Linked DNA regions of Homo sapiens: region 2 is linked to region 1. The links come from fine-mapping of genetic effects on gene expression. Tissue or cell type: whole blood. Region 1 holds a variant in brackets; the other region holds the start of a gene. Each region is shown on its reference strand, or each on the opposite one.

Region 1 (15,571 bases):
GGCATAATGTAGGATGAGCAACAGTAGTGTAAGAAATAAGCATGTAAGAGTTCAGATGCTGTTTTGTGATGTGTTCATACTTCTCTGCTTTCCCTCCCACACATATTTTCTCTTCCTCACCCACTCCTAATTTCTCTCTCACATCCCTATTTCCTGTGAAAAAGGTCTCCTTTCTTTAGATTTTTTTTTCATGGTTTCTTTAGATTGTCTTTTGCATTACTTTTGTAATACTGTGACTATGTATTTGGTCTTCCACCCTGTCTCCTGGCATACAACTCCTAAAATCCTTGGAATCTCCAAAATAGAATTTTTATTTTTTATTTTTTTATTTTTATTTTTTTTTGGCTCTGTCGCCTAGGCTAGAGTGCAGTGGCACGATCTTGGCTCACTGCAGCCTCTACTTCCCGGATTCAAACAATTCTTCTGCCTCAGCCTCCCAAGTAGCTGGGATTACAGGCGCATACCACCACACCCGGCTAATTTTTTGTATTTTCAGCAGAGACGGGGTTTCACCATGTTGGCCAGAATGGTCTAGAACTCCCAACCTCAGGTGATCCATCCGCCTCGGCCTCACAAATTGCTGGGATTATAGGTGTGAGCCACCACACCCAACCAGTAATGTCTTTTCGTATGCTCACGAATTGACTGATGGCTGGCAGCTCCTAGGTAGCTTCGGACAGGAGCTGGTCACCAGGAAGACCAAGGCATGACTGATTAGAGGACTGGGACTTTCAGCCCATCCTTAATTTCCAGGGAAGGGAGAGATACTAAAGCTTAAGTTGATCACCAACGGCCAATGGTTTAATCAATCATGCCTATGTAATGAAGCCTCCATAAAAACTCACAAGTACAGGGTTCAGAGAGCTTCCAGATAGCTGAACACATGGAGGTTCCTGAAGAGTGGCACACCTGGACGGGGCAAAAAGGCTACATGGCCCTCTCACACGCCTTGCCCTATCACCTGATATTCAGTGGTATCCTTCATAATATCCTTTACAATAAAAAACCAGTAAACATGTTTCCTTGAGCTCTGTCAACCGCTCTAGTAAATTAATTGAACCCAAGGAGGGGCTTGTGGGAACCCCATTTATAGCCAGTCAGAAGCACAGGTAAAACAACTTGGGGCTTGCAAATGGTGGGGGGCGGGGGCAGTCTTGAGGACTGAGCCCTCAACCGTGGGATCTGACACCATCTGCCTGTCAGCTGGCGTCTGCTGCAGCACCGAGTGCCTACTCGGTGTGTGTGTGTGGCTGGGGGCATCTCCACAAATCTGGTCCCAGAGGTGTTCTGTGTCGACTGTTGACACTGAGTATAGGAATAAAGGAGTATAGGAGAAACCTGATTTTTCCCTACATCCTCAGACTTGTACTATAGCCCTGACTACTCAAATGCTTCTATTAAATCTTTCAAAAGCTAAACATTTTTATTCACCTATTTACCTACCCTCGAAAAACTTCCAAAAGGAATTTTTTTTAAGAGATGGGGTCTGTGTTGCCCAGGCTGGAGTGCAGTGGCCATTCACAAGTGTGATCATGGCTCACTGTAGCCTCAAACTCCTAAACTCCTGGACTCAAGCAATCCTCCTGCCTCAGCCTCCCAAGTAGCCAAGACTGCTGGCATGTGCCACTGTGGCTCCAAAAAGAATTTTTAATTTCTAAGTTAACGGACACAGGAAGAGGTAATGCACATGTTAATTGGCTCAATTTAGCCAATCCACAATGTATAGATATTTCAAAACATCATGTTGTATATGATAAATACATACAATTTTTATTTGTTAATTAAAACAAAATTTGAAGGAAAAAAACTACATACAAAAAACTTGATCCAGCAAGGGCAAAGCATCCTGGAAAAGTTCACTCCTAGAGATGAGGAATCTAGAGAGTGGTGGAAGGATTCACAGTGTTGTTATTATTATTGTTAAATGACCTGGAGGCCACACTACGCTCTCGGTGTGTTTACTGATCTATTACTAATTAGACACTACGGACACAGGAAGTGCAGTCTGGTGTAGTGAGAAGAGTACTCAACCAAGCCCTGGTTCAGATCACAGCTGTCACCACAGCTACTGCCTCCCTGTGTACCCCTCCTTAGCTCTAAAATGGAAGGACAGCTGGGTGCAGTGGCTCATGCCTGTAATCCCAGCACTTTGGGAGGCAGACAGGTGGGTCACCTATGGTCAGGAGTTCGAAACCAGCCTAGCCAACATGGTGAAACCCTGTCTCTACTAAAAATACTGAAAATTACAAAAAATTAGCTGGGCGTGGTGGCAGGTGCCTATAACCCCAGCTACTCGGGAAGCTGAGGCAGGAGAATCACTGGGAGGTTGCAGTGAGCCGAGATCGCGCCATTGCACTCCAGCCTGGGCAACAAGGGCAAAACTCTGTCCCAAAAAAATAAATAAATAAAATAAAATAAAGGACAGTAGCACCTGCTTCGCAGGATCGTTGATGAAAGAATTAAACCATACAGCATTTAGCACTGAGCTTGGCATGCAGTAAGGACTCAAAAAATATTAGTCATTACTATCACTGTCCCAATCCCATCTCCCAAGGCACCTATGAGGGCTGAACCAGCCAAAGCCTTTAAGAACCTGGCACTCCAGGGTTGGTACAGAGCAGGCGCTCAACAGCCGCCACTTATCAATGGTAGTGACTTGCTAATAAACTCATCCCTGCTGATCTGTGGCAATTCTAGTAGAATTAAAGGTTACTTTGCTTTGAAAGTTCTTGGGGATTATGCAAATAAATATAATGGAACAACTCTCTATACCAAAAAAAAAAAAAAAAAAGAAAGAGAAAAGCTGTTTTATTAATATTTATGCCATCGTAAGTAATTTTTATCTAGGCATTTAAACAAGTTCCCAAAAGACATCTAACTTTTTTTTTTTTTTTTACAATGACTATTAGGAAATAATTAAAGCAACCTCCTTCTAAAATCTTCCGTAATTCAGGCTTCTTTTATGCAGACACACCAATCCCTAATTAGAACAGAACAATGAGGTTGTACTTCATTCTGAACAGTGATCTTATCTTGAGTAAGTCTTGCCCCTCCTCAGAATCACTGATCTGCTGAAGAGCCAGAGAGCTCGGCCGGCAGCCCCCACCCTCTCCTCCCCAGGAGAAGGAAGCGAGTCACTGCTCAGGGGCCCTCACTCGGTGCAGGACCGGCTGGGTTTGAGATAGAATAGAAGTCGGCCTCCCCAGAGGACTGTACTCTAATTGAGGAAGACAGCCAATGGACACCAAGCCACAAACTTAAATTAACACGTATGTCATATTTTACAGCCAAGTGGAATAAGGCAGTGAACAAAAGTAGGAAAGGCTTCAAATAAGAGGCTCTGAGCAGAAGTTTAGAGGAAAAGGACACTGACAACTCCAAAGAGGCAGGGACAGAAGACAGCAAGACAGGCAGGCAGAGATGGCTGCTCTGCTGTGGGGAACTTCAAGGGAAAAGCTCCAAGATGGCAGGAGCCCCAGGGTAGGTACAAGTTCCATACGGTGGGAAGGGCCTCACTACGGTAGGCAGGCTTGCTCTGTCGCCCAGGCTGGAGTGCAGTGACACAATCTCGGGTTATTAAATTTGGGTTTAATAAACCGAATTGTCTTAAAACCCTCAACACAGCACTTACATTTATACTAGAGCTTAGAATTTGGGTTTTCTTGTTTTCCTGTCATATGCTGTGTTTTGTATGATGAACGATATTTAAGTGGACATTAACAACGACCTTCCCCAAGAAGTCCATTCTTCATATACGACATTCTAGTGGGGTTCTTCCTACTGTATCAGATCCACATACCTACCAAAGTGACGCCCTTCCCACTGTATCGAATTCGTACCTACCGAGGGGCTCCTGCCATCTTGAAGTTTTTCCCTTGAAGCTCCCCACGGCAGAGCAGCCAGCTTTGCCTGCCTGCCTTGCTGTCTTCCGTCCCTGCCTCTTTGGAACTGTCTTTTCTCAGTGTCCTTTCCCTCTGAAGTTCTGCTCAGAGTTTGCCTCTTATTTGAAAGCTAAATTACAGGACAAATATTCTTCATGTCACAGAAGGGTCCATCCAGGGGGACTCTTTTACACGGAAATGTGCTTAGTAAGTTCATTTAACATGGAAACATGATGAACTTCAAAGTTTGAATTAAGGGGAAATAAATCAAGCTATGGTATCAGGTTAAACTAACTGCAATAAAAATTACAGAACCTTAGAAACTGTAATGTGAATCAGAAGGGAAATACTGATTTATCAAAATGCACTTAATACAATATTCAAGAGTGCTACCTGGAAAAGGTAAAATCTACTTTTGCATAATTGATTATAAAATTTTAGCTTTTTTATTCATTCTCAAATGCACTTGATGGCTGTACTCTGTATCAGGTATCAAAAAACATCCTGCTTCGCTGAATGATTACTATTTACCTTCCATTTAAAAAACCCAAGCAAGACAGGGCCAGGCACAGTAGCTCATGCCTGTAATTCCAGTATTTTAGGAAGCCCAGGCAGGAAGATCACCTGAGGTCAGGAGATCAAGACCCGTCTGGCCAACATGGTGAAACCTCATCTCTACTAAAAATACAAAAATTAGCTGAGCGTGGTGGTGGGTGCCTGTAATCCTAGCTACCTAGGAGGGTGACACCGGAGAATTGCTGAACTCGGGAGGCAGAGGCTACCGTGAGCCGAGATCGCGCCACTGCACTCCAGCCTGGGTGACAGAGCAAGATTCTGTCTCAAAACAAAAACAAAAACAAAAAACCCTAGACAGTCCTTATTCAAAGTTCTTTGTCACCTGGGACCCTAAACTGTCCTGGAAATGCAGCCAAGTCTATTTTTATTTGGTGCACTTAGCAGTCACAGGGAAGTGCCATTCCCAGACAGCCAAGACAACGTTAGTTTCCTCAACATGGTTTGCGTGCTGCTTCCCTCAGCCCTGAAGGGTGGGGACAAGGGTGGAATGGAAGGTGCCTGTCATAGCAGCCAGCTGCCACCAGAACACAGTAATGACCCAGCAGCCCCTGCACGTTAGCCCAATCATCTGGGACAGGGGAGCAAAAACGGGTTGTTTACCACCACCACAGCTGAGAGGGGCACCAGACCCCGGAGAGGTGCTACAGTCAGCTGCCTATCCACCCTGCTTACAGGGAGAGGATTCTCCAGCCAAGAACAGTCCTGGAGGAAGAAGAATGTGGGGGCTGAGCTAGGAGCTAGCCTTTGCAGAAGCAGCCCCAGACCCCAGATTCCCAGCCACCTCAGATTCCCCAGCCATATTGTAAGAACAAGCAAACAGACATCCAGAGACCAGGTCCTTTGCCCCAAATGCTGTGAGATGTAGCTGGCAGGCGGCAACAAGAAGTCAAGAAAGGGGGAAAGAGCATATTCCAGACGTGAAAGCAGACTTGGAAGTGCCAGTCCATGTACAACGCGTGGAGGCGTGTGGGCTATTTGAGAGCCACAAACAGAAAATGAATGCCTTAAGTCCAAAAAGTATGCCAGTACCAGGTATGTTGGCTCACACCTATAATCCTGGCACTTTGGGAAGCCGAGGCAGGGGGACTGCTTGGGTCCAGTAGTTCAAGACCAGCCTGGGCAACATAGCGAAACCCGGTCTCTACAAAAAAAAGTACAAAAATTAGCCAGGCATGGTGGCACATGCCCATAGTCCTAGCTGCTCAGGAGGCTGAGGTGGGAGGACTGCTTGAGCCCAGGAGATGGAGGCTACAGTGAGTCAAGATCACGTCACTGCACTCCATCCTGGGTGACAGAGTGAGACCCTGACTCAAAATAATAATAAAAAGGTACACCATAAAATGAGAGAATTCAGAAACAACTGAGAAGCACAACATGATGGAGAATCACAAGCTGAAGAACAACCTTAGTGTTACTCATCATAGACTATGCTGATAAAGAATATCCGTGGCTGGGCATGGTGGTTCACACCTGTAATCCCAGCACTGTGGGAGGCCAAGGCAGGCAGGTCACCTGAGGTCAGGCGTTCGAGGCCAGCCTGGCCAACATGGCAAAACCCCTCCTTTACTAAAAATACAAAAATTAGCGGGGCATGGTAGTGCATGCCTGTAATCCCAGGAGGCTGAGGCACCAGAATCACTTGAATCTGAGAGGTGGAGGCTGCAGTGAGCCAAGATCGTGCCAATGCACTCCAGCCTGGGCGACAAAGCAAGACTCTGTCTCAAAAAAAAAAAGAATATCTGCAACACATCTAGCAATGTATACCTGGAGAATATATGTGCTGCCTTTCACATTTTAAGACTCTACCAACACACAGGCTCTTGAAGGAAAATTTGCTATGATCAAAACTATAAATGCATATGCCTTTTAACCACTAATTCTATTTCTATGAATCTGTTCCATAGATTTGCCTGTCCGCATAACTTTACAAGGCTATTCATTAAAGCACTGTTTGTGAGAAGACAAGACTGGAAATAACCTAAATGTCCACCAGTGGGGAGAGGATTAAAGCAATTATGGCACAGGTCACATAATGGAATGGTAGACAACTGTAAGAAGACAATAAACGTATGCAGCTGTGTGTACACTATGCTACCTCAGTTAAGAAGAAAAAGGCAGGAAGGGGGAAGAGAGAACTAAGAGTCAACAGCGTCTGCCTGAATACAGATAAACCCTGGAAGACAGCACTACTTCCAGTGGTTACCTGGGAGGAGCTAGGTGGAGGGAGGCTCTCTCTACAGGTTTTGTCCTCTGAGTTTTCTGAGCCATGTGAATGAACTACTAGTTTAAGTAATTAAAGGAACTAATTTTTTTTTTTTTTGAGATGGAGTCTTGATCTGTCGCCCAGGCTGGA[A/G]TGTAGTGGCGCGACCTCAGCTCACTGCAACCTCCACCTTCTGGGTTCAAGCAATTCTCCTGCCTCAGCCTCCTGAGTGGCTGGGACTACAGGTGCACGCCATCACACCCGGCTAATTTTTGTATTTTAGTAGAGACGGGGTTTCACCATGTTGGCCAGGACGGTCTCGATATCCTGACCTCATGATCCATCAACTCAGCCTTCCAAAGTGCAGGGATTACAGGCGTGAGCCCACCGCGCCCGGCCAAGAAACTGATTTTTTTTTAAGGCACCCCCACTGGGGATATACTGGCCCAGGTGATTAACTTCAGCACCAGGTGGTAACACCTGGAATGGTTCCCAGTGCTCCAGTTTCCAGTTAGGGTCCTTATGATTTGAGGATAAAATGTGAAATGGGTTCACTATTAGTTCAAAATATATTTAGTGTACAAATAAGCTTAAAAGGCTAGAAAAGAAAAGGGCACTTTAAAGAAGAACTTTTCGAAAGTATTTTTTTCTAAAGGGATGTGACAATCGACATGTAACATTTTGTACCCAACGCTCACACAGGGAAATCTGACATTATTTCAAAATACTCAAAAATTAGTTGGCTGTCATGTCTTGTGGCTTCTAGCAAATCAATGAAGAAACCTCTAATATAAAGATGATGTTAAAAATGGAGCTTGTGACAAAGCAAGTGATGATCAGACGCCACACTAAAACACAATCCATTTTCCTATCTCTGGATGGCGCCTCTTAGGGGTAATTTGTACTTTGTTCAAATAATTCTCATTAGAGGTCTAAAGGTTTTGCAACAGGAATTAACTAAAACTTTGCTTCTCACCATTTAACAGATTCTCTTAATCACAAATATAAAAATAAAACAATACAAAAACATATATACCCCCAAAATGTTTTGTTTTGAATTTTTTTAACTAGTTTTTCTTTTTTCACTATGAAAGTAAATACATTTATGGTTTTTTGCTTTGTTTGAAAAAAAACCCTCAGAATATAAAATGAAAAACAGCCCCCAAAACATCTCTAGCTCAACCCCGAAAAACAATTTCTAGAGATTCCCTTCTAGAAATTTCCTACATACACCATTAGCATATCTTTCTACCCCTAAAAGAGATCTAATTATCATTTTTGCTCTCCATCCTTTGTTTATTGATTCTCAGTCTTTTCTCCCCTCCTAAGTACCCATCACTCTCCCTCAACTGGATCTGCAATGCCAGGGAACTCAGCTACTCTTCTGAAGGAACTTCACTGATTTTACCCTTTCTTTTCTAAAGGATTTCTGAGTCATACTCAGTGTTTTACAATCTCTACATTAATTAACTAAATTAACGAAAAGGTCTGGAGTTAATGAAAATGTTCTTAGAAGTCCTACCCATCAAGAAACTTTATCTGCTTGGTGTTGAAGTAGGTTGCTAACCTACAGATATTTCTATTTCAACTATTAAGGTGGGTAATAAAAACCAGAAGTTTTAAGAATCTATTCCAGGAATTGAGAAACAATAAACACAACTTCTGTGTGAGCTGGCTGCATGACATGCATTTTGATGACAGTAGCAAAACCTCTAATATTCTTTGAGATGACATGGAATTAATTTTAAAAAAACTTTAAGCCTAGGCAACATAGCAAGACCCTGTCTCTACAAAAATAATAAAAAATTATCTGGGCATGGTGGTGCGTGCCTGTAGTCCAAGCTACTGCGGAGGCTGAAGTGGGAGGATGGCTTGAGCCCAGGAGTTTGAGGCTAGAGTGAGCTATAATCTCACCACTGCACTTCAGCTTAAGTGACAGAGCAAGACTCCGTCTCAAACAAAAAACAAGAAAACTTCAATTATTCCTATTTATATAACATAGAGAAAACATTAAAATTGTTTTGTGTTATTTATCTAAATGCAGCACCAAAACATTTTACCGTTAAAAAAGAAGACTTAATTAATTAAAAGAAAGCCTGGGCCGAGCATAGTGGCTCACATCTGTAATCCCTAAACTTTGGGAGGCTGAGGTTGAAGGACTGCTTGAGCCCAGGAGCTCAAGACCAGCCTAGGCAACATAGGAAGACCCCGTATCTCTACTAAAAAAAAAAAAAAAAAAAAAATTAGCCAGGCATAGTGGCATGCACCTGTCATCCTAGCTACTTGGGAGGCTGAGGTGGGATTGCTTGAGCCCAGAAGGTGGACATTGCAGTGAGCTGTGATCAAATAAATGCACACCAGCCTGGCGGACAGAGTGAGACCCTGTCTCAAAATAAATAAAAATAAATTTAAAAAAATAGAACAAAGCCTGCATTTCTAATACTAACATTTCCAACAGCTCTGAGATATGTATCAGTCTGAAAGGCACTGATAGTAGAGTTACATAAAATGGGCTACTTAGGGCAAAAAGAGTAAGAAGAGACCATATTTGCCTGGCTACGCACAGTCCATCTCTAGAATACGTAAGAAACAGCTAACACTGGTTGCCTATGGGGAGGGGAATGACCAGTGACCCCAGAAACAGACAGGAGGAAGAGTTTTCACCAATTACTCTGCTTTTTTGGAATTCTGAACCATATGAATATATTATCTACTCACAAGAACTTAAAAAAACTTTTAAAAGAAAATTGTTTGTACAAAAATTTACTAACATCTTAAATAAGAACACTAGTTCCAGTTCTTAAGCTGCTTTTCATGGGGCCCTTTTCCTGCCAAAAACGGGGCTCAGGAGGGGAAAGCATTGTCTACTCTCCCTACAGACCTGAACTTGGATGAAAAAACACACCTTGAAAAAGCTAATCTAGACTTCTGGAAAATAAATCACAGGAGCTCCCCCAATCACTCTGGACACGGGTTTTTTAAAGCTTAATTTTGTTTTATAAGCCCTAAAAAAAAATAATAACCTGGACTCCTAGGTCTGACATTCAAGGCCCTTGGTGATGTTATCTCGCCTTCAGATGCCCAAGCTGATGCTCTACTCACCCTCAATGAGCTCTGGTGTCCTTCCTCCAACAAGCCTCCCTGACCACCCAGCCTGAGGCATCCACTTCCTTCCAGTCAGACATCGAGCTGAGTGTGAAATGCTATAGGCCACGGTGGGCACCACGGGACTGCTCACCCACCACACCACACAACTCAGAGTTCCATGAGGACAGAAGCAGCTTCTGCCACTACTGTCATCACCACAGCCCAGCAGGGTGCCCCACACGTAAAATGTGCTTAAATATTTGCTGAATAAAAGAATGAAGTGGTAGGAGTCAAGACTGGATCCCGGGCCGACCAACCCCCGCAGGGCAGAACCACACCTTTAGTCTCCACCATCTCAGAAGCAAAACCATGAGGCCTCCTAAATTCTGGTAGCCCAGTGAACATAACCCAAAAACTGTCACAAGAGCCAGACCTCCACCCTGCTATGAGTGCTGTTCCCTCTGCCTGGAACAGTACTATCTGCCATCTCCTATTCACCCTCAGGTGTCAGTGCTAACGTCACAGCCCCCGGGGACTTCCAATACCCTTCAAAACAGGCTCAGTCCCCATCTGGTGCCTCAGTCAATGCACAGTATGTCCCCTCCAAGGTCACACCTGACTGCAGTTACCTGTCCAGTATCCATCACCACCCATGAGGGCAGAGATGGGGCCTGTCACATCCCCACTGGATCGCCAGGGCCTACATCACAGCATAACAAATATTTTCTAAATTAGTGAATAATCCTGAACAGTGTGACCTAAGCCGTGAATATTTTTGAAGGAGTCTTTCATCATTTTTAATTTGGAGTCTTGCATCTTTAAAAGATGATCGTTTTAAAGGAACTTTGTCATAAATATCTAGGTGATACGTATCTTAAAGAAAACTCTAGACAAAGAGGATAAGTAAATGTACTTACAGTTGTGCTGTCCAATACCGTAGTGACTAACTACATGTGGCTATCTTCATTTACTCAAACCAGGTAACATTTAAAATTTAGTTCCTAAGTCACACTAATCACAATTCAAGTACTCAACAGCCACACGTGGCTCGTGGTTCCAGTACTGTGTCATATAGACACAGCGTAGAGCCGCCCTCCCAATAACGACCACTGGACAGCGCTGGCTTGGAGGGCATCCCGAGAACACAGGCATCCCCAAACAAGGAAACATCTCAATTCACCCTCTTCCTCCTGGGAAAGAATCCGTTCTCCCCTAAAGTTTCAGTGACTGAGAAAGCCATCAGTGAAAGCAAAACACTTGATTCTCTTGCCATCATTCAAATGATTCCCTCAGAGACTTCTCAACAGAAGTTCAACTACGGGCAGGTGTGCTCTTCAAACAAAAACCGATTCCCACAGTAGTAGAGGAACAACCACAATGACACAGAAAACCTATCAATATGTTATGTCTTTTTGTTATTTTCAATAAAGGTGACGTTCTGAATATGTAAATCAGATTTAAGTAAAGATATCCACAAATCGGGGAAAAATTTTGTCCACCACGGGGTAACTTTTACTTATAAAAAAAAAAAATCACACCAAATCTAGGAGAACAGAAAAACAGTAATCTCCATTAAAAGAATTTCCTACTATAGAATCTGCAGGAGGAGAAAAGTCACACAGTACAGCACAGAGCTGAATCTGTTCCTTTCAAGATCTGTGTAGCTGAGCCCGAGAGGCAATTGAGTTTCACTGGTATTCCTTTCAACCAACCTGACTAAACTGGACAGTGATCCCAAGGCCATTTTCTTCCCAACTCTGTTTTCAATAAAATACTATATTTATAATTTCTCTGCATTTACTTTTCCCTTTTCTCTAAGTCCTAATCTAAATCAAGCCCTTGTTCTGAAGCAATAACTAGAAACAGAGTTCCATTTAATTAAGAGTTCAATTTTCCAATAAAAAACAGTTGAACTGCAAACACAGACGGAGTAAAATGAGTCAAACGATTACCCATTTTGTAAGATTCTCGAATCTTAGTTCGTTTTCTTACAAACTGGTTCCCAAACTGCACTAGAGCTGGCACTGAAAGCCAAACAGGCAGGGGCAGAAGCTTCCCATGTATTCAGTGAGAAGCCTCCTGATTCCGGGTCAGGCTACATCATCTTAGTCCTCACTGGCCCAAGAAGTAGGTGATGGCTAATATTTTCCCATACAATTAAACAATAAAAACAGCTGCCTCAACCTGCTATATGCCAGGCACCCTAGTAGCCCCATGTACCAAGATAATCAAAGTAAGCAGAAGTAGAGCCAGGCACAGTGGCTCCATCTCACACCTGTAATTCCAGCTACTCAGGAGGCCGAGGCAGGATTGCTGAAGGATGGGAGTTCAAGACCAGCTTGGGCAAGCAAGACCCCATTGGAAAGAAGAAAAGTAATGTAAAGAAGGGGAGGGGAAGGGGAAGGGGAAGGAAGGAAAAGAAAGAAAGAGAAAAAAAGAAGGAAGGAAGGAAGGAAAAGAGAAAGAAAGAAAGAAAAAAGAAAGAAAGAAGAGAGAAGAGAAAGAAAAGAAACAAATGGAATACTGCAGGGTAAAAAGCCCCTTTTAGAGATCTCTCTCTCTCTCTCTCTCTCACTCACACACACACACACACACACACACACACACACACCCCACCCTGCAAAACTCAAATGTGATGTCACCAGCCCAAGTCACAGCGCTGCCGAGCTGGGAGCTGGGACTCACAGTCTACTCTGAGCAGGAGCCAGGGCTCCCTCCTCAGCACCACACTGACCGCCTCCCCGTATAAAAAGCTGACATTTCCTTCAACTGTGACTCACAGTTAGAAGGTTCTACTTTTAATCAGGTGACAAATACTCAAAATATTTTAATCCAAAGCAACTGGGTCAAACTCGTAGAGTCTATAATTGTCTAAGCAAACCCTAATTACCTGATAAATTTCTATAGCTCCTGAATGTCCTCATTCAGTTTGTAATCAAATACCCAAATCTCCTTATTTAAATGTTGTACAAGCCTTCTCTACATGTTATCATACAGAACAGTGACTTATTTTTCTATTTCACTGGTTATTTTAACCATAAAGTTAAAACATGTTTAGGTGGTGCAGTTTTAATAAGAAAAATCCAAACTAGGGGGAGGAGAAGCAGCTTGTGAATTATAAAAAGATTTGCTTTACAACAGAATTGTACAACTCCACTACACAACTACTTTTTCTCCTTACCACAGATTATGCAAATTCGAAAGGTTGAATTAGGTGCAACTGGAAAATATACCTACTGTATACAATATAGTACAGGCATATTAGAAAGGCAAATTAAGACATTTTCAAACAATAGCAGACAGTACAACTAGAAATGGGAAAGTAAAGTCAGATTTAATCATGTAGAATTATTTTCCCCATTAGATTTTACTATTCTTAGCAATGGTTCAACTAAACAGTCTTTTGATTAATGGAAATGAAACACCGGGGAAAATGTCACACGGGATAATATCCAAATCTTTCTTAAGGGTAAGTTTTAAAAGGAATTCAACTTTTAGAGACAGAGCTCAAAAATAGCCTTGCTTCCTAAATTTAGAACCAGAAAACACCCTAAAGGCAGTATTTTAAATACAGCCACAGTCACCGCCTATATTGTCTAGGAACTTAATAAAAAAAACTTTAAAAAGAGAGGGGCCACTTTTGTTTACTTCCATGCCTTTCACACAGCCTTGCCCAATTTGATTTGTGTGCCCTTGCTCAAATCTCTTCAAGTCACAGCTCAAATGGCAAAGACCTGACCACTCCAGGACGCCCCGGGGACTCTGCTCGTGGCCTATTGTAGCACCCCTGTCAGCAGAGCACGGCCCCAGGGAAAGGAGAACAGGCAAAAGCCCCCACAGGCACTGCTCCCAAGGCTTACACTTCTGCATCAAAGACTCATGCAATAGGAGAATTTTGCCGAAAGCCAAGTTTGAGCCTGACTGAGAAGAGCAGCATCCTTTTCCAGTTAAAGCAAGGAGTGTATCCGGAGGGATGCACTGCAAGGAAAAGACCTCAGAGAGGACTAAAGGGAACGCTGAGCGCATGTGCTAAAAAGCAGACGGCACGGCCAGGAGCTTCAGAGCCTAGGAGAGACGGGACAACCAGAAGAGGACTCAGATGTGAGCAAGCCATGGGCCTACAACGATACCCCAGGAAACAAACTGTCATGGTCAGGGTGCTTTTCCCAACAACCAGGAATGCATGGAAAACAGGCAGGCTTCCCCAACTCCTGGCTCTGTGCTGGCTCAGCAGAAGAGCTGTCACAGGAGCCCAAGGCTCCTCAACCATCCCAGGGCCTGCCTCCCACTGGGGCATGCGGCCCTGGACTTCTGCACACGGGGACACTCAGGAAACAGGGGAGGGAGTAAATGAAGCCTTATTCAGATCACCCTTTCTGGTTCCAGAGTTTTTGCACTTGACTGCATTTCTGTACCCTTTCCTTAAGTTTTGCCTCGAGGTTTCATCTTCTCAAGATGGTTCTAAGTACTCACAGGCATCTATCAGAATCCTGTGTACACTGCTAATGCTTAACAGGTACCTCAAGATAAATTATACACAGTAAACAAACAGAATCACATACTTGTCTGCTGCTTAAACAGTCCATGAAATATGCTTCAAAATTATCAATAATTTTCAGTGTACATCCTGATTTGATTTAAAAGAAAAAATAATTCAGAACACACACCATTTAAGTTTTCGTAATTTTAAGCTTTCATGGCCATCACGTTCCTATTTTTAAAAATACAATAAAAAATGGAGACAGAGTCAATGGTATAGATGACAGAATTCCCGGCTATGTATCTGCTGAGGTGCTACACTATCACACGCGTGCCTGCACACTGGTTTCTGTGGATACGAGCACACATGGCTTCTGTCCTTTCCAGAACTGCTGAGAAACAGGTCTTGCTCCAATCAGACTAGCACTCCCAGTAAGTCCTAGGACTTACAAGGTACGACAACGTCCCTGGTTAACGCTAGTGTCAGTTCCCATTGGGCGGATATGCCAGACACACATCATCTCAGGCTACCCTCATAACCACCCTGAGATGGGAATTGTTATTATCTCCATGTTACAGATGAGGAAACTCTGAGCTCAGAGAGCTGATGTAACTTGCCCCAAACATGCTCTGGCCTCAGCACTCCTAAGGCCAGCTGGTTTGGTGGCCGGGTGGGAGCCCATGGGTACGGAACTCGGAAGCAAATAACAGACCCAATTAGAAGATAGGTGGCAATCTGCTTGAAAGTAAAACCTTAACAAGAAAATGATAAGAACTTTAAGGGACAAATACTATATAATTCTTTCACTAATTCCCTCAAATATTTCCTGAGGGCCTACTATGTGTCAGGCACTGCCCCTGGGGAGGGAAGTGCTGGGAAGAGGGCCGTGGAAAGGCTCTGGAGTTCTTACTGACGCTCACCTTCTGGTGTCACAGGAAGGGGAGCAAGCCTAGAGCCTGAGATGACAAAGACGGACGAGAAATGCCATGTGGGCCACTGGGGTCAACAAAAAGCAAAAGAACAAAGAAAAATGCAACCGGTCACCAGGCTTTCTGATAAATTCGTCTGATTTTAAATCAAGTCATCCATATAACTGTTACAGAGGAACAAAAAAGACAGAGAGAGAGGGCCCTGCTAAGCTCTGAAGTGCTCCAAGACAGGAGACCCAAGCTAGCCTGCTGCTCACCTGGGCTCTCCCGGGCTCCACATCATGCAGCTCAGAAAACTTGCCCTGCTGCTGTTTTCCTTAAAGCTGTCTGTGCAGCCGTGGTAGGCCAGTGCTCCCCAACGGGTGCTCAGAGAATGAAGTCCCACGTTATATCAGTCACCAAATTGCAGCCCATGGGC
Region 2 (15,571 bases), not on the chromosome of region 1:
GATTCACAATTCAATTATAGTTTGATTCAACATAGTACTAGAAGTCCTAGCCAGAGCAATCAGGCAAGAGAGAAAGAAATAAAAGGTATCCAGACTAGAAAAGAGGAAGTCAAGTTATCCCTGTTCACTGATGATATGATCTTTTTTTTTTTTTTTTTGAAACGGAATTTCGCTCTTGTTGCCCAGAATGCAGTGCAATGGCACCACCTTGGCTCACCGCAACCTCTGCCTCTTGGGTTCAAGCGATTCTCCTGCCTCAGCCTCCCAAGTAGCTGGGATTACAGGCATGCACCACCATGCCCGGCTTGTTTTGTATTTTTAGTAGAGACAGGGTTTCTCCATGTTGGTCAGGCTGGTCTTGAACTCCCGACCTCAGGTGATCTGCCTGCCTTGGCCTCCCAAAGTGCTGGGATTACAGGTGTTGAGTCACCACCCCTGGCAATATGATCTTATATCTACAAAATCCTGAAGACTCCACCAAAAAAACTGCACCAAAAAAACTCTTAGATTTGATCAATTAATTCAGTAAAGTTTCAGGATACAAAATAAATGTACAAAAATCAAGAGTGTTTGTATTCACTAATAATGTTCTAGCTGCAAATGAAATCAAGAAGGCAATCTCATTTACAATAGCTACCAAAAAATAAAATATCTAGGAATATATTAACCAAGGAAGTAAAAGGATTCTATAAGAAAAACTACAAAACATTGATGAAAGAAATTGTAGGTGACACAAACATCCCATGCTCACTGATTGGAAGAGTTAATATTGTTAAAATGACCATACTATCTAAAGCAATCTACAGATTCAGTGCAATCCCTATCAAAATATCAAGGTTACTTTTCACAGAATTAGAAAAAAAAATCCTAAAAAATTCATATGGAAAAAAAAACAGCCCAAATAGCCAGAACTTTCCTAAGCAAAATAAACAAAGCTGGAGGCATCACATTATCTGACTTGAAATTATACTACAAGGCTATAGTAAACAAAACAGCATGATATTCATTTAAAAATAGACACATAGATCAATGGAACAGAGTAGAGAACCCAGAAGTAGATGCACATATTTAGAGTCAAAATTTTTTTTTTATTGAGTCAGGGTCTCACTCTGTTGCTCAGGCTGCAGTGCAGTGGTGTGATCATGACTCACCGCAGCCTGGACCTCTTGGGCTTAAGCAATCCTCCTGCTTCACCTTTAGAGTAGCTCAGGACTACAGGCACACACCACCATACACAGCTAATTTTTTTAATTTTATTTTTTGTAGAGTCAGGGTCTCACTATGTTGCCCAGGCGGGTCTCAAACTCCTGGCCTCAAGTGATCCTTCTGCCTTAGCCTCCCAAAGTGTTGGAATTATAGGGATGAGCCACCATACCTGGCCTGATCTTTGACACAGTCGACAAGAACACACACTGGGCCAACCTGGGCAATATAGTGAGGCTCCATCTCTACAAAAAATTAATTTAAAAAATTATCTGGGAGTGGTGGCATGTGCCTGTAGTCCCAGCTACTCGGGAGACTGAGGTGGGGGAATAGCTTGAGCCCAGGAAGTCAAAGCTGCAGTGAGCCATGATTGTGCCACTGCACTCTAGCCTGGGCGACAATGCGAGACCCTGTCTCAAAAAATCAATAAATACACACAGGCACACACACAAGGGAAAGAATATCCTTTTCAACAAATGGTATAAACAGTGCTGGGGAAATTGGATTGCCATGTGCAGAAGAACGAAACTGGACCCCTATCTTTTACTACATGCGAAAATCAACTCAAGGTGGACTAAAGACTTAAATGTAAGATGTGAAACTATAAAAATACCAGCCAAAAACCTAGGGAAAACTCTTCTGGACATTGGCTTAGCAAAATAATTCATAACTAAGACCTCAAAAGCACAGGCAACAAAAAACAAAAATAGGCAAGTGGGACTTAATTAAACTACAAAGCTTCTGACTAGTAAAAGAAATAGTCAACAGAATGAACAGACAACGTGCAGAATGGGAGAAACTATTTGCAAAATACACATCCAACAAGGGTCTAATATCAGAATATAAAAGGAACTAAAATTCGACAAAAATCTCAGATAACCCCATTAAAAGTGAGCAAAGGATATGAATAGACATTTTTTTCCAAAAATACATACAAATGGCCAAGAAACATATGAAAAAATGCTCAACATCACTAATCATCAGAGAAATGCAAATTAAAACCACAATGAGACACCGTCTTACAACAGTCAGAATGGCTATTACTGAAAAGTCAAAAAATAACAGATGTTGGTGAGGACATGAAGAAAAGAGAACACTTAAACACTGTTGGTGGGAATGTAAATTAGTACAACTTCTATGGAAAACAGTATGGAGATTTCTCAAAGAACTAAAAAATAAAACTACCACTTGATTCCACAATCCCATTACTGGGTATCTACCCAAGGAAAAGAAATTACTACATCAAAAAGATACTGGCATTTGTACGTTTACTGCAATACTATTCACAATAGCAAAGATATGGAATCAACCTAAGTGTATATCAATGGACGACTGGTTAAAGAAAATGTGGTCTATATATACAATGAAATACTATTCAGCCATAAAAAAGAATGAAATCTGTCTTTTGCATAAACATGGATGGAATGGGAGACCATTATCTTAAGTGAAACAAGTCAGAAACAGAAAGACAAATGTTGCATGTTCTCACTTATAAGTGGGAGCTAAACAATGTGTACACATGGACATAGAGTGTGGAATAATAGACAATGGAGACTCAGAAGGATGATGGAGTTTGAGGGGGCTGGATGATGAGAAATTACTTAATGGGTACAATGCATATTGTTTGGGTAATGGATACCCTAAAAGCCCTGACTTCACCACTGCACAATCTATGCATCTAACAAAATTGCACTTGCATTCCACAAATTTATACAAAAATAATGTTGAATCAAAAAACATTATAGTTTGGTGGAACATAGAATTATAGGTTGGAAATAATTTCCCTAAAAAATTTGAAGATATTTTATATTATTTTCTAGCTCCCAATGTATTTTTTCTTTTTTAAGAGACAGGGTCTCACTCTGTCACCCAGGCTGGTGTGCAGTGGCGTGATCATGGCTGACTGCAGCCTTGACCTCCTGGGCTCAAGCAATACTCCCACCTCAGCCTCCCAAGAAGCTGGGATCACAGGCACTCGCTACCATGCCCTACTATTTTTTTTAAATTTTTTTTTGTAAAGATGCAGTCTCCCTATGTTGCCCTGGCTGGTCTCAAACTCTTGGGCTCAAGTGATCCTCCCATCTTGGCCTCCCAAAGTGCTGGGATTAGAGGAGTGAGCCACCACACTCATTCCTCCCAATGTTGATGAGTTTGTAAGCCCAATGCTGTTCTGATAAGGAATCAATTAAATACAATTAAAAATTTTATTTTTGTGTGGGCACACAGTGGTGTATATATGTATATATTTATGGGGTACATGAGATACTCTGATACAGACATGCAATAAGTAATAATCACATCATGAAAAATGGAGTATCCATCCCCTCAAGAATTTATCCTTTGTGTTACAAACAATCCGATTATACCCTTTTAGTTATTTTAAAATGTACAATTAAATTATTATTGACTATAGTCACCCTGTTATGCTATCACATACTAGGTCTTTTTCATTATTTCTATGTTTTATACCCATTAGCCATCCCCACTTCTCCTCAACCCCACACTACTCTTCCCAGCCTTTGGTAACCATCCTTCTACTCTCTATCTCCGTGAGTTCAACTGCTTTGGTTTTTAGCTCTCACAAATAAGTGAGAACATGCTAAGTTTGTCTTTCTGTGCCTGGCTTATTTCATATGACATAATGACCTCCAGTTTCATCCACGTTGTTGCGAGTTACAGGATCTCATTCTTTTTCATGGCTGAATAGTAAGTACTCCTATGTGTATACGTACTACATTTTTTTAAATCCATCTGTTGATGGACACTTAGTTTGCTTCCAAATTTTAGCTATTGTGAATGGTGCTGCAACAAAAATGGGAGTACAGATATCATTTCGATATACTGATTTCCTTTCTTTTGGGTATATACCCATCAGTGGGATTGCTGGATTGTATGGTAGCTCTATTTTTAGTTTTTTGAAGAAATTCCAAACTGTTCTCCATAGTGGTTGTACTAATTTACATTCACACCAACAGTGTACGAGGGTTCCATTTTCTCCACATCCTCTCCAACATTTGTTATTGCCTGTCTTTTGGATAAAAGCCATTTAAACTGGGGTAAGATGATATCTCATTGTAGTTTTGATTTGCATTTCTCTGATGATCAATTATGTTGAGTACCTTTTCATACACTTGTTTGCCATTTGTATGTCTTCTTTTGAGAAATGTCTATTCAGATCTTTTGCCCATTTTTAAATCAGATTATTAGATTTTTTTTTCTTTTGTTTGTGCTCCTTATATATTCTGGTTATTACTCCCTTGTCAGACAAGTAGTTTGCAAATATTTTCTCCCATTCTGTGGCTTGTCTCTTCACTTTGTTGTTTTCTTTGCTGTGCAGAAGCTTTTTAACTTGATGTGATCCTGTTTGTCCATTTTTGCTTTGGTTACCTGTGCTTGTGGGGTATCTCAAGAAATTTTGCCCAGGCCAATGTCCTGGAGAGGCTCCTCAATGTTTTCTTGTAGTAGTTTAATAGTTTCAGGTCATAGATTTAAGTCTTTTTTTTTTTTTTTTTTTTTTTTTTTTTTTTGAGACAGAGTCTCGCTCTGTCACCCAGGCTGGAGTGCAGTGGCGCGATCTCGGCTCACTGCAAGCTCGGCCTCCCAGGTTCATGCCATTCTCCTGCCTCAGCCTCCCGGATAGCTGGGACTACAGGTGCCTGCCACCACACCTGGCTAATGTTTTGTATTTTTAGTAGCGACAGGGTTTCACCGTGTTAGCCAGGATGGTCTCAATCTCCTGACCTCGTGATCCACCCACCTCGGCCTCCCAAAGTGCTGGGATTACAGGCATGAGCCATTGCGCCCAGCCAGATTTAAGTCTTTAAGCCATTTTGATTTGATTTTTATATATGGTAAGAGATAGGGGTCAAGTTTTATTCTTCTGCATAGGGATATCCAGTTTTCCCTGTATCATTTATTGAAGAAACTGTCTTTCCCCCAGTGTCTGTTCTTGGCACCTTTGTCAAAAATGAGTTCAATACAGATATATGGATTTGTTTCTGGATTCTGGATTCCATTCCATTGGTCTGTGTCTGTTTTTATGCCAGTACCATGCTGTTTTGATTATTATAGCTCTGCAGTATAATTTGAAGTCAGGTAATGTGATTCCTCCAGTTTTGTTCTTTTTGCTCAGGATAGCTTTGGCTATTCTAGGTCTTTTGTGGTTCCATTCTAGGTCTCTTAGGGTTGTTTTTTCTATTTCTGTTAAGAATGTCATTGGTATTTTGATAGGGATTGCATTGAATCTATAGATTGCTTTGGGTAGCAATGGTGTTCTGATTCTTAATCCTAATGTTATACTGATTTTTAAAAAATGTATTAACAAAGCAACAACATGAAGTCACATGTTCTGATTTTTTTTGTCTGTATATGCAACTTGTTCTTTCTCTCTGGAAGCTTTTAGAATTTTTTTCTCTGTGTCCAGTACTCTGAGATTCTATAATGATGTGTCTTGGTGTGGGTTTGATTTGTTGTTCTGGATACTTAGGGTGCCTGTTCAATTTGGAGACTGTTCTTCAGTTTGGGATAGTCCTTTTAAATAGTTTTTTTGATGATCTCTTCTGATTCTCTGTTCTCTTTCTGGAACTCTAATTTAGAACTCTTATTTAGTCCAGACCTTCTGGACTGATCCTTTATTTTTATGTTTTCTCCTAAAGCAGAACAAATTTGATCTTCTTCAACTTTATCCCCCAGCCTTTTTATAGAATTTTTATTTCTGTAACATGGTTTTAGTTTCCAAGAGCTCTTTTTGCTTATCCGAATAGTAGTTACTCTCAAGTAGTTTCCTGTTGTTATTTTATGAATGCTCTATAATATCTCTTTGAGAAGTCTGATGATGGATTATTTTTAAATGCTTTGTTGTTTCAGACGGAGTCTAGCTCTGTGGCCCAGGCTGGAATGCAGTGCCGCAATCTCAGCTCACTGCAACTTCCGCCTCCCAGGTTCAATCAATTCTTCTGCCTCAGCCTCCTGAGTAGCTGGAACTATAGGCGCGTGCCACCATGCCCAGCTAATTTTCGTATTTTTAGTAGATACGGGGTTTCACCACGTTAGCCAGGCTGGTCTTGAGCTCCTGACCTCAAGTGATCCGCCCGTCTCGGACTCCCACAGTTTTGGGATTACAGGCGTAAGCCACCGTGCCCGGCCTATTTTTAAATTTTTTATTTTTAGTGTTTTTTCCCCTCCCTTGCAATTTATGTTTCCTCTCATTTGCTTTTCCCTTCTTGTTTGTTTCTTACTTGTATATTAAAGTCCTTCCTTAAATGTCTAATGATCTCTGGCTATTTATTTTGAAGAGTAAGAACACTAAAAAGCTGATTGGAAAGTGGAATGAGGGCTGGGGCACGTAGGCCAAAGTGTTACATGTGGAATTCATTCTAGTTATCTATATCATTAAGAGAACTCTGATAAGGGTATCTTTGGGATTTTTCGTTTTGGCTGGTGAGATTCCCCAGAGAGGGTTTTCCAAAGGTATAATCAGCCTCTTGTTTACCTTTGTTTCGTAATAAATATTCTCAAGTTTGCTAAACCAGTTAACATTCTTCTGTTTGATTTCCAGCTTCCAAAATGTTGCTGTTGTTGTCTCCTTTCCCTTTCTTACGGCCTGGAGAGTAATACATAATTTCACCTTAACTGGAAGCCCATGTATGCATGTATGTATGTATGTATGTATGTATGTATGTATGTATGTATGTACGTACTTATTTGAGACGGGGTTTCGCTGTGTTGCGCAGGCTGCACTTGAACTCCTGGGCTCAGGAGATCCTCCTGCCTCAGCCTCCGGAGTAGCTGATACCACAGGTGCGTGCCACCACGTCTGGCTGCCCGCATTATTTCTCTAGGATTTTTACTGGAGGTCATTTTACTGGAGGTCAACTGCAGGATCGTATAGGAAGGTTTTGACACAAATTTTCTGATTGCCTCAAAGCAATATGTATATATGAAAAGAGGTAAGCGTCCGTATAATAATTGTTTGTTTTGCAACAAGCATTTAATAACTTTCACCGGCACTGCGCACGCTACCTATCTGCCTCAATACTCCGCCCGGCGGTGGGCAGGATATAATGCAAGAGACGTCTGAAAAAGCAATGAGATGCGCATGACAGCTGGGCGAAGACAGAGGGCAAACTTAAAAGGACCAAGCGCATAGACCACGCCTCTGAAATTGGGGAACGAGGAGGGGTTTGATCTTGTCGATGATTGGCTGGTCTCTGACCAATCACGGACAGCGATTGATATTTCTAATCGTCGTGATCCACCTCCCCAGGACCTTGGAGCCACGTTTACAAATAGGAATAGGGTACGTGGGAGGGATAGAACGTACAGCCAATAAAATCATGTGGCGCCGATGGGCGTGTTGAGGCCGCTGCCTGGCTTAGGGCGGAAACAGATTCTCTGCATAAGAAGGGGAACGAAAGATGGCGGCGGAAACGCTGCTGTCCAGTTTGTTAGGACTGCTGCTTCTGGGACTCCTGTTACCCGCAAGTCTGACCGGCGGTGTCGGGAGCCTGAACCTGGAGGAGCTGAGTGAGATGCGTTATGGGATCGAGATCCTGCCGTTGCCTGTCATGGGAGGGCAGGTGAGAGGCGTATAAGGGGCGAGGGTCTGGGCAGAAGAGGAAGCGGGTAAGAGATAGAGGAAGAAGGGCAGCTCCGGAGTCTGGGGCTGGAGCCTACGGGGAATCGGGAAGAGTAGGTATTGCTTTTACGGTGACCCCTGGGGGTCGCAGACTGAGACCAATTCTCTGGGGGCCAGGAATTGGGAGAGGTGGGGCTTCCCGCTGTCAACCTTCAGGTCTCAGTTTATGATCGAAACACCCGGACTCCGCCCCCGTGGAGAAATGGGAGCGCCCTCTCCTCTCACCCACTAAATACAGCTGGAGGGCTTATGGCTTATTCTGTCTTCGACTGATCTCTTCCCCAGGGTTTGAAGAGGGATTTCGTTGTTCTCCCTGATCCCAGCCTTTCTTTGCTTCCTTGCCCCCCGACCCTCCCTTCTTTCCCAGAGCCAATCTTCGGACGTGGTGATTGTCTCCTCTAAGTACAAACAGCGCTATGAGTGTCGCCTGCCAGCTGGAGCTATTCACTTCCAGCGTGAAAGGGAGGAGGAAACACCTGCTTACCAAGGGCCTGGGATCCCTGAGTTGTTGAGCCCAATGAGAGATGCTCCCTGCTTGCTGAAGGTGAAAGGGACTGGGTTAGATAGAATGAGGGCTTGGAAACTAGCAGTTCATCCAAGAACTGGAGTCCACTGAATGAGGCAGGATCTAGGGGACCTGTAGTGGTTAAGAAGACCACTGGAGGAGTAGACAGATTACACGGACAGGAAAGAAGCAAAGAATCCTGCAACCACTGATGACACTTTGCTGAACGTAGGAGCAGGTTAGGATAGAAGATCTCAGAAAAGGGCTAAAGCAAGATTGAGGGTCTGCGTGGGGTAGGAGGAGTACTTCCTTAAGCCTACTTGCTAAAGTCACCCCCTGCCCTATCACTCTGCTCCAGTATCCTGTTTTATTTTCATCGTAGCACTTTTCATGATCTGAAATCATATTTACTGAATCAGTTTGTTTATTTTCGGTCTGATTCCCCGCATTAGAGTGTAAACTCCATGAGGTCAAAGAATTAATCTTGTTCACAGTTGTATTCCCAGTGGCCAGAACAGTGCCAGGAATGTTCAAGAAGTTCAATTAATATTTAATTTTGGGTTCTTCTATGTTTCCCTAATATAATTGCTTCAGGGATACCATAATTTCTTATCTTTATGGAGGGCAAATAAGGATTTAAAAAATCTTTTAAAAGGGAGGAATGGAAAGACCACAAGTGGAAAACAGACTTTAGAGATATCTCTCCAAGTCACAGAAGGAAAGCAGCCCTCCCTCCTTACTGAAAGTCTGGAGAATTGAGAGTGGAAGTGAAGGGAAGAGAATTGAGTGTGTAAGTAGATGAGAGGTTATGTGTCTTGGAGCCAGGAGACTCTGGTTCCAAGAAAAGATGTCTGCACTCCATCCCCCTGATTGTTTATTTTTTAATTGTCAGACAAAGGACTGGTGGACATATGAATTCTGTTATGGACGCCACATCCAGCAATACCACATGGAAGGTAACTCACTCCTATATTTTCCTTAAGCCCTTAGTGTCATATCATGGAAGTTCCCCAGTTCCCTCCTCCTCCTCCTCCTCTTAAGAGTAACAGTGCTTCACTGTGGCTTCCCTTGCAGATTCAGAGATCAAAGGTGAAGTCCTCTATCTCGGCTACTACCAATCAGCCTTCGACTGGGATGATGAAACAGCCAAGGTGGCAAGAGTGTGGGATTCAGGAAGAAAGGGTTCTGGCCACCGGCTGAGAGCCCTGACAAGAAGGGGAGGGTCAAGATTAGCTGATCTGTTTCTTGGGGCTTGGTGGCCATTAGGACAAAGTTTCCTGGGGCCTGGGGGCACAGGCCATTCTTTTGTCTCTTTGGGGACGCAGTGCCATCCTTCCTCTTTGCTATCTTTCTCATGTCCCCCATTCCTGCCTCATGTCTTCTCCAGGCCTCCAAGCAGCATCGTCTTAAACGCTACCACAGCCAGACCTATGGCAATGGGTCCAAGTGCGACCTTAATGGGAGGCCCCGGGAGGCCGAGGTTCGGGTGAGTCTTGAGAGAGGGAAGTTGACACTCCCACAGGGACAGTTCAGATTCTAAGGGAAGAGGGTTGCATCTTATAGTCGGGGCGGGGGCGGGGGGGGTCCCCTCCCAGACCCTAAATCCAAAGTTTAAAACATATTTCCAGCCGGGCGCAGTGGCTTATGCCTGTAATCCCAGCACTTTGGGAGGCCGAGGCGGGCAGATCACCTGAGGTCAGGAGTTCAAGACCAGCCTGACCAATATGGTGAAACCCCATCTCTACTAAAAATACAAAAATTAGCCGGGCGTGGTAGCGGGTGCCTATAGGCCCAGCTACTCGGGAGGCTGAGACAGGAGAATTGCTTGAACCTGGGAGGCGGACGTTGCAGTGAGCCGAGGTCGTGCCACTGTGCTCCAACCTGGGTGACAGAGTGAGACTCTGTCTCAAAAAAGAAAAGAAAAAAAAAAACCCACATTATTTCCAGGCCGGGCACGGTGGCTCACGCCTGTAATCCCAGCACTAGATATCTCTCAAAACTCTCCTATGCTTTCTTGTGGTCGGTACCTTCACTCTCGCCTGCATCCCTGCAAACAGCTTCTTTACAAGTGCTTCTCATCTAGTGGTCCTTAGCTGAGTGGAGGCAGGCAAATATAGAATGCAAAAAGTTCCTTGGGTGATTCTCATGTATTCACAAATATACACACCTGTAAAGAATTACATGACACCTGCCAGAGTTATCTTTCCATAATGCAGATTTGTACCTGCAGTTGTGTGCTGGTAAGTGTTGGACCCCCAGATCTCTATGGGTGTGGGAGGGAAGCCCTGATCTGTAATGTTTGCCAATGCCTGTGGTATAAATACTCCCATGATGCGCAAGTCAAATGATGTCAACTGTCTTGCAACATTCTCCAAAACTTACCAGTTGGCTCCAACACACCTGTAAGTCTGCATCACTTCTCTGTTCAGTCCTGAAAAACCTTCAATGTTTCTGCCTTGCACAAAGGCTAAGAGCCAAATGTTTCAGCACAGACCAGGGTGGTGGCAGTGGAGGTGATGGGAAGTAGTTGGATTCTGGATATATTTTGAAGGTAGAGCCAATGAGATTTGTTGATGGTTTGGATGTGGGATAGAATCATGGATTACTTCAAGATTTTTGGCTTGAGCAACTGGAATGATGGAATTGTAATTTACTGAAGTGTGAAGGAACAGGTTTAGGGGAGGAAATTAGGTTGGTTTTGGATATTGAAGGTTGAGGTGCCTTTAGACATCCTAGTGGTGATGTCCAGTTGACAGTTGGCTCTGTGGTTCTGGAATTCAGGGACAAGGTCTGGGATAGAGATATAAGTACTCATTGTATTTCTGCCACACTGGCCTTTTTCTGTCCTTCGAACCAGTGGGTCTCATTGTTCCCTCTGCCTGGTGCAGTCTCCTGCAGATCTTTAAATGATTGGCCCCATCCCCTCATTCAGGTTATATTCAAGTGACAACTCCCAGGGAACCTAACATAAGCAAACACACACACACACACACACACACACACGGAACCTAACATAAGCAAACACACACACACACATACACACACACACACACACACACACACACACACACACACACACCCTATTGCTCCTGTCCTGGTAAGCATCCACAGTGTTTTGCATTCTTCAAAGCATGTATCATTACTTGAAATTATTGTATTTGTTTAATTCTGTCTTCCCTCACTAAGATAAGCTCTGGGAAGGCAGGGATGATGTCTATCTTGTTTTCTTATGTATCCACAGCTCCTGGAACAGTGCTTCACTCAAATAGGTACCTAGAAATTATTCATTGAATGAATGAAATGACTGACAAGCCAGTTCTAATATCACCTTTCTTGATTAACCCAGAAAATTAGTTAGTTGTGTTCCTTCACCACTTAATAATACAAGCATCCACACACGTATATAATCCGTTATAGCACTTCATTGTATTCTAGTTATTCGTTTGGGTGTTTGTATCTTCAGTAGGCCAAGAACTGAGGTCAAGACTGCATAGCTTCCTCATATCTGGTGAACATATGCCCTGTGCCAAGCACTAATAGAAACTAGGAACAAAAAGGTGGATGAGACCTAGTCCTGCTCTCAGGAGATATGTTAAATGAACAGCCACAACAAGCAGGATAAATGCCATGAGCAGTGAAGTGCAGCCCGCAGGGGAGCACACAGTCGGGACAGAGTCCAGGGTGAAAAGGAGGCCTCTTGGGAAAAGTGACCTTTGAACTGACATTGGAGGATGAGGAGTTAGACTAGCAGATGGAGAGGATGGTGGGGGGAATGAGAGGGCATTCCAAATGGAAGGTGCGCTAAGTGCAAAAGGCCTGGAGACAAGAGGCAATGGCCTATCCCAGGAACTGACAGATACTCACAGGGACTGAGGGGATAATCATGGGAAGAGGAGTGTAGGAGATGAGTCTGGGTGGTTGGTAGGGGACAGGTCATGAAGGGCTCTGTAGCTATGATGAGGAATTTAGACAATCCAAGAGACAATGGTTAGGGGAGGCAATGAGGTATTTGAAGCAGAATGATGACATATTCAGGTTTGGAATTGAAGGCCCACTCTAGCTGGAGTATAGCAAAGATTGAGAGCTCACTTAGGCAGCTGTGGTAATCCAGGTGTGAAATAAAAGTGGCCTGGGGATGAAGAAATGTGAATATTTAGAGACAGATTTAGGGGGTAAAATCAACAGAGTAAGAAGGAGTCAAGAATGATTTCCAGGCTTTTGGCTTGTGCAGTTAGATAGAGGGTGATTCGTGTTCCTGAGATAGGTATAATGAGAAGAGGAGTAGGTATGGTGAAGGAAAATGGTGAGTTTGGCTTTGAATATGATTTTAGTGGCTGCTAGGCATTCAAGTAGAGATTTCCAAGGGGGCTGTGGATCTCTGGGTCTGGAGTTCAGCAGAGAGATCTGAATTGAACCCAGAGGTGGGGAGTTGTCCTTGTATCAGCCATAACTGAAGCCAAGGTATGGATGAAATCCCCCAAAGAAAACAGTATCTAATGAGAAAAGTGGGATGGAACTTCAAGGAAGCCATCACTAAGAGCATGGGAAGAAGAGGGTTTTGCCAGAAGAAAGGGCCAGAGAGGAGGCTATGGTGACATGGAAACGAGGAAGGACACATTTGAAGGGGAAATTGGTCCATGGTGTTGGCTGTGCCTGAACCTTCAAGGAAGAGGAGGATTAAAAACTGCTTATAGGCAATCATAGTCATTATTATTTTAATAAAGGCAAAACATGTACATGGAAATAAAAAATTCAGACAGTAGAGAAGAGAGCCAGATGGAAAGTATAAATTCTCTACTTCCAGGCACCCCTGACCAGTCCTTTGGTTGGACTTAATGATAGAGATCATTGGTGATCTTTGCTGGGGCAATTTGAGCAGAGTTGTGAAGATGAGGTGTTGAGAAAAGTGGTGAAAAAGTGGAACTCTGCTGGGCGCGGTGGCTCATGCCTATAATCCCAGCACTTTGGGAGGCCAAGGCAGGCAAATCACTTGAGGTCAGGAGTTCAAGAACAGCCTGGCCAATATGGTGAAACCCCATGTCTACTAAAAATACAAAATTAGCCGGGTGTGGTGGTGGGCGCCTGTAATCCCAGCTACTCGGGAGGCTGAGGCAGGAGAATTGCTTGAACCCGGGAGGCGGAGGTCGCAGTGAGCTGATATCGCACCATTGCACTCCAGCCTGGGTGACAGAGTGAGACTGTCTCAAAAAAGAAAAAAAAGAAAAGAAAAAAAGAAAAAGAAACTGGAAATCTTTGAAGAAGTTTGGATATGAAAGGGAGATAAAAGGTAAGCATTAGTGAGAGGTGCTGGGGGGTTGAGAGAGGGGGCATTCTGTGGTTGGTGTGTGTTTTAAGATGGAACAGACTAGAACATGTTGAAGACTTGGGTGAATGTTAGTGGAGAGGAGGAGAGGGAAGTCAAGGTACAGTAGAGAGAATGTGAAAAGAATGTGGACAGGGATGGGATGCAGAACCCTGGGAGAGCAATTTGCCTCAAAAGGAAGGTCTAGGGTCGTAACTGGAATGGTGTATTTGCTAGTGAGTCTGGAGGTTTTGGTGGCAGAAAGTTGAGGCCATTCCTGTCTGGTTGCTTCTAGTTTTCAGTTCTTATGCCACTTGCCTAGGTGATCAGGTAAAGCCCCTACTCCAGGGCAGGCACTGTGATGTGTTGCTGGCCTGATGCCTCCTCAATAGGAACAGCGTGCATGTTGTTTAAAGTGCAGTCTCTGTGGGGCTAGGGAACAACTGGTTAGCTATATGGAATTAAATAAATTCCTATTTATTGGTGTGTGTTTTAAGATGCAACAGACTAGAACATGTTGAAGGCTGTTGGGTGGATGTTAGCGGAAAGGAGGAGAGGGAGATCAAGGTACAGTAGAAAAAGTGAGAAAAAAATGCGGACAGGGCTGGGATGCAGAACCCTGGGAGAGCAATTTGCCTCTAAAGGAAGGTCTAGGGTAGTAGACCAACTCAATTCTTATAAAGTAAGATTCTAGAGATATCAAAGATTTTTTTAAGTTATAAAACATACAATTATACAAAAAAAAATGTCATAGAGACCCATAAATTCACTGCCAAGTTAAACAGATGTTAATGTTTTGCCTGATTTGTTTCAGATCTCTGGTTTAAAAAAAGGAATAAAATGCTTGTGCTAATAGCTAAAGCCCACCTTCATATTTAGTCACTCTCCCTCCCGCCAGAAACAACCACAACCCTCACTATGTTTGTTTTGTATTTTTATTACTGATATATATATTACAGACAATAGATAGTGTTTTGTGTTTTAAAATTATACATCAGGAGTATCAACTTGTTTTTTTCACTGATCAGTGTGTTTGCCATTCAATGGCATGACATGGAACTCTGGTTGAGTGATTTTTTTTTTTTTTTTTTTTTTTTTTTTTTTGAGACAGAGTCTCGCTCTGTCACCCAGGCTGGAATACAGTAGTGCAATCTAGGCTCACTGCAACCTCGGCCTCCTGGGTTCAAGCGATTCTGCTGCCTCAGCCTCCTGAGTAGCTGGGACTATAGGTGCCCACCACCACGCCCAGTTAATTTTTATATTTTTAGTAGGGAAGGGGTTTCACCATGTTGGCCAGGCTGGTCTTGAACTCCTGACCTCAAGTGATCCACCCACCTTGGCCTCCCAAAGTGCTGGGATTACAGGTGTGAGCCACCGTGCCTGGCCTGGTTGAGTGATTTTAATGTCTGTATTGTGTTTCATTGCTTACTTACCCATTCCTCTGTTGATAAACAGTTGGGTTTCAACTCTAATGCCCTTATACACAGTGCTGCAATGTAGGTCTTATTGTGAGTGTACAAGAATTTCTCCAGGGAAATACCTAGAAAGTAGAATCACTGGGTTACAGGAGTGTATGTTATTGGTGAATTCAATTTTTTGTTTGTTTTGTTTTGTTTTGTTTTTTGAGATAGAGTTTCACTCTTGTTGCCCAGGCTGGAGTGCAATGGCGTGATCTTGGCTCACTGCAACCTCCGCCTCCCAGGATCAAGCGATTGTCCTGCCTCAGCCTCCTGAGTAGCTGGGACTACAGGCGCCTGCCACCATGCCCAGCTAATTTTTGTATTTTTAGTGGAGACGGGGTTTCACCATGTTGGCCAGGCTGGTCTTGAACTCCTTACATTGTGATCCGTCCACCTTGGCCTCCCAAAGTGCTGGGATTACAGGTGTGAGCCACCATGCCTGGCCCTCAATTTTTTTAATGATT

Evidence for each region. PIP is the estimated chance that this variant, and not a neighbour inherited with it, causes the effect. A credible set is the group of variants that fine-mapping cannot tell apart.
Region 2: OS9 starts here. The variant in region 1 is the best candidate, but not a certain one, in a credible set for the expression of OS9 in whole blood (TOPMed, PIP 0.81).

Annotation. Positions count from the first base shown.
Region 1 is chr16:3,858,880-3,874,450 of GRCh38, forward strand. The region is part of intron 1 of CREBBP (CREB binding lysine acetyltransferase); the gene reads right to left. Among named protein-coding and RNA genes, the nearest start is that of CREBBP, 14 kb to the right of the region's middle. RefSeq lists silencers at 1,008-1,192, 12,329-12,623, 13,529-13,823 and an enhancer at 13,160-13,695. The variant A/G (reference allele first, on the strand shown) is at 6,811.
Region 2 is chr12:57,686,543-57,702,113 of GRCh38, forward strand. OS9 (OS9 endoplasmic reticulum lectin) reads left to right here and starts at 7,590. Exons shown (of 15, transcript NM_006812.4): 1 at 7,590-7,781; 2 at 8,208-8,384; 3 at 9,238-9,301; 4 at 9,420-9,496; 5 at 9,733-9,831. The coding sequence starts at 7,620. RefSeq lists enhancers at 7,219-7,793, 7,781-7,830.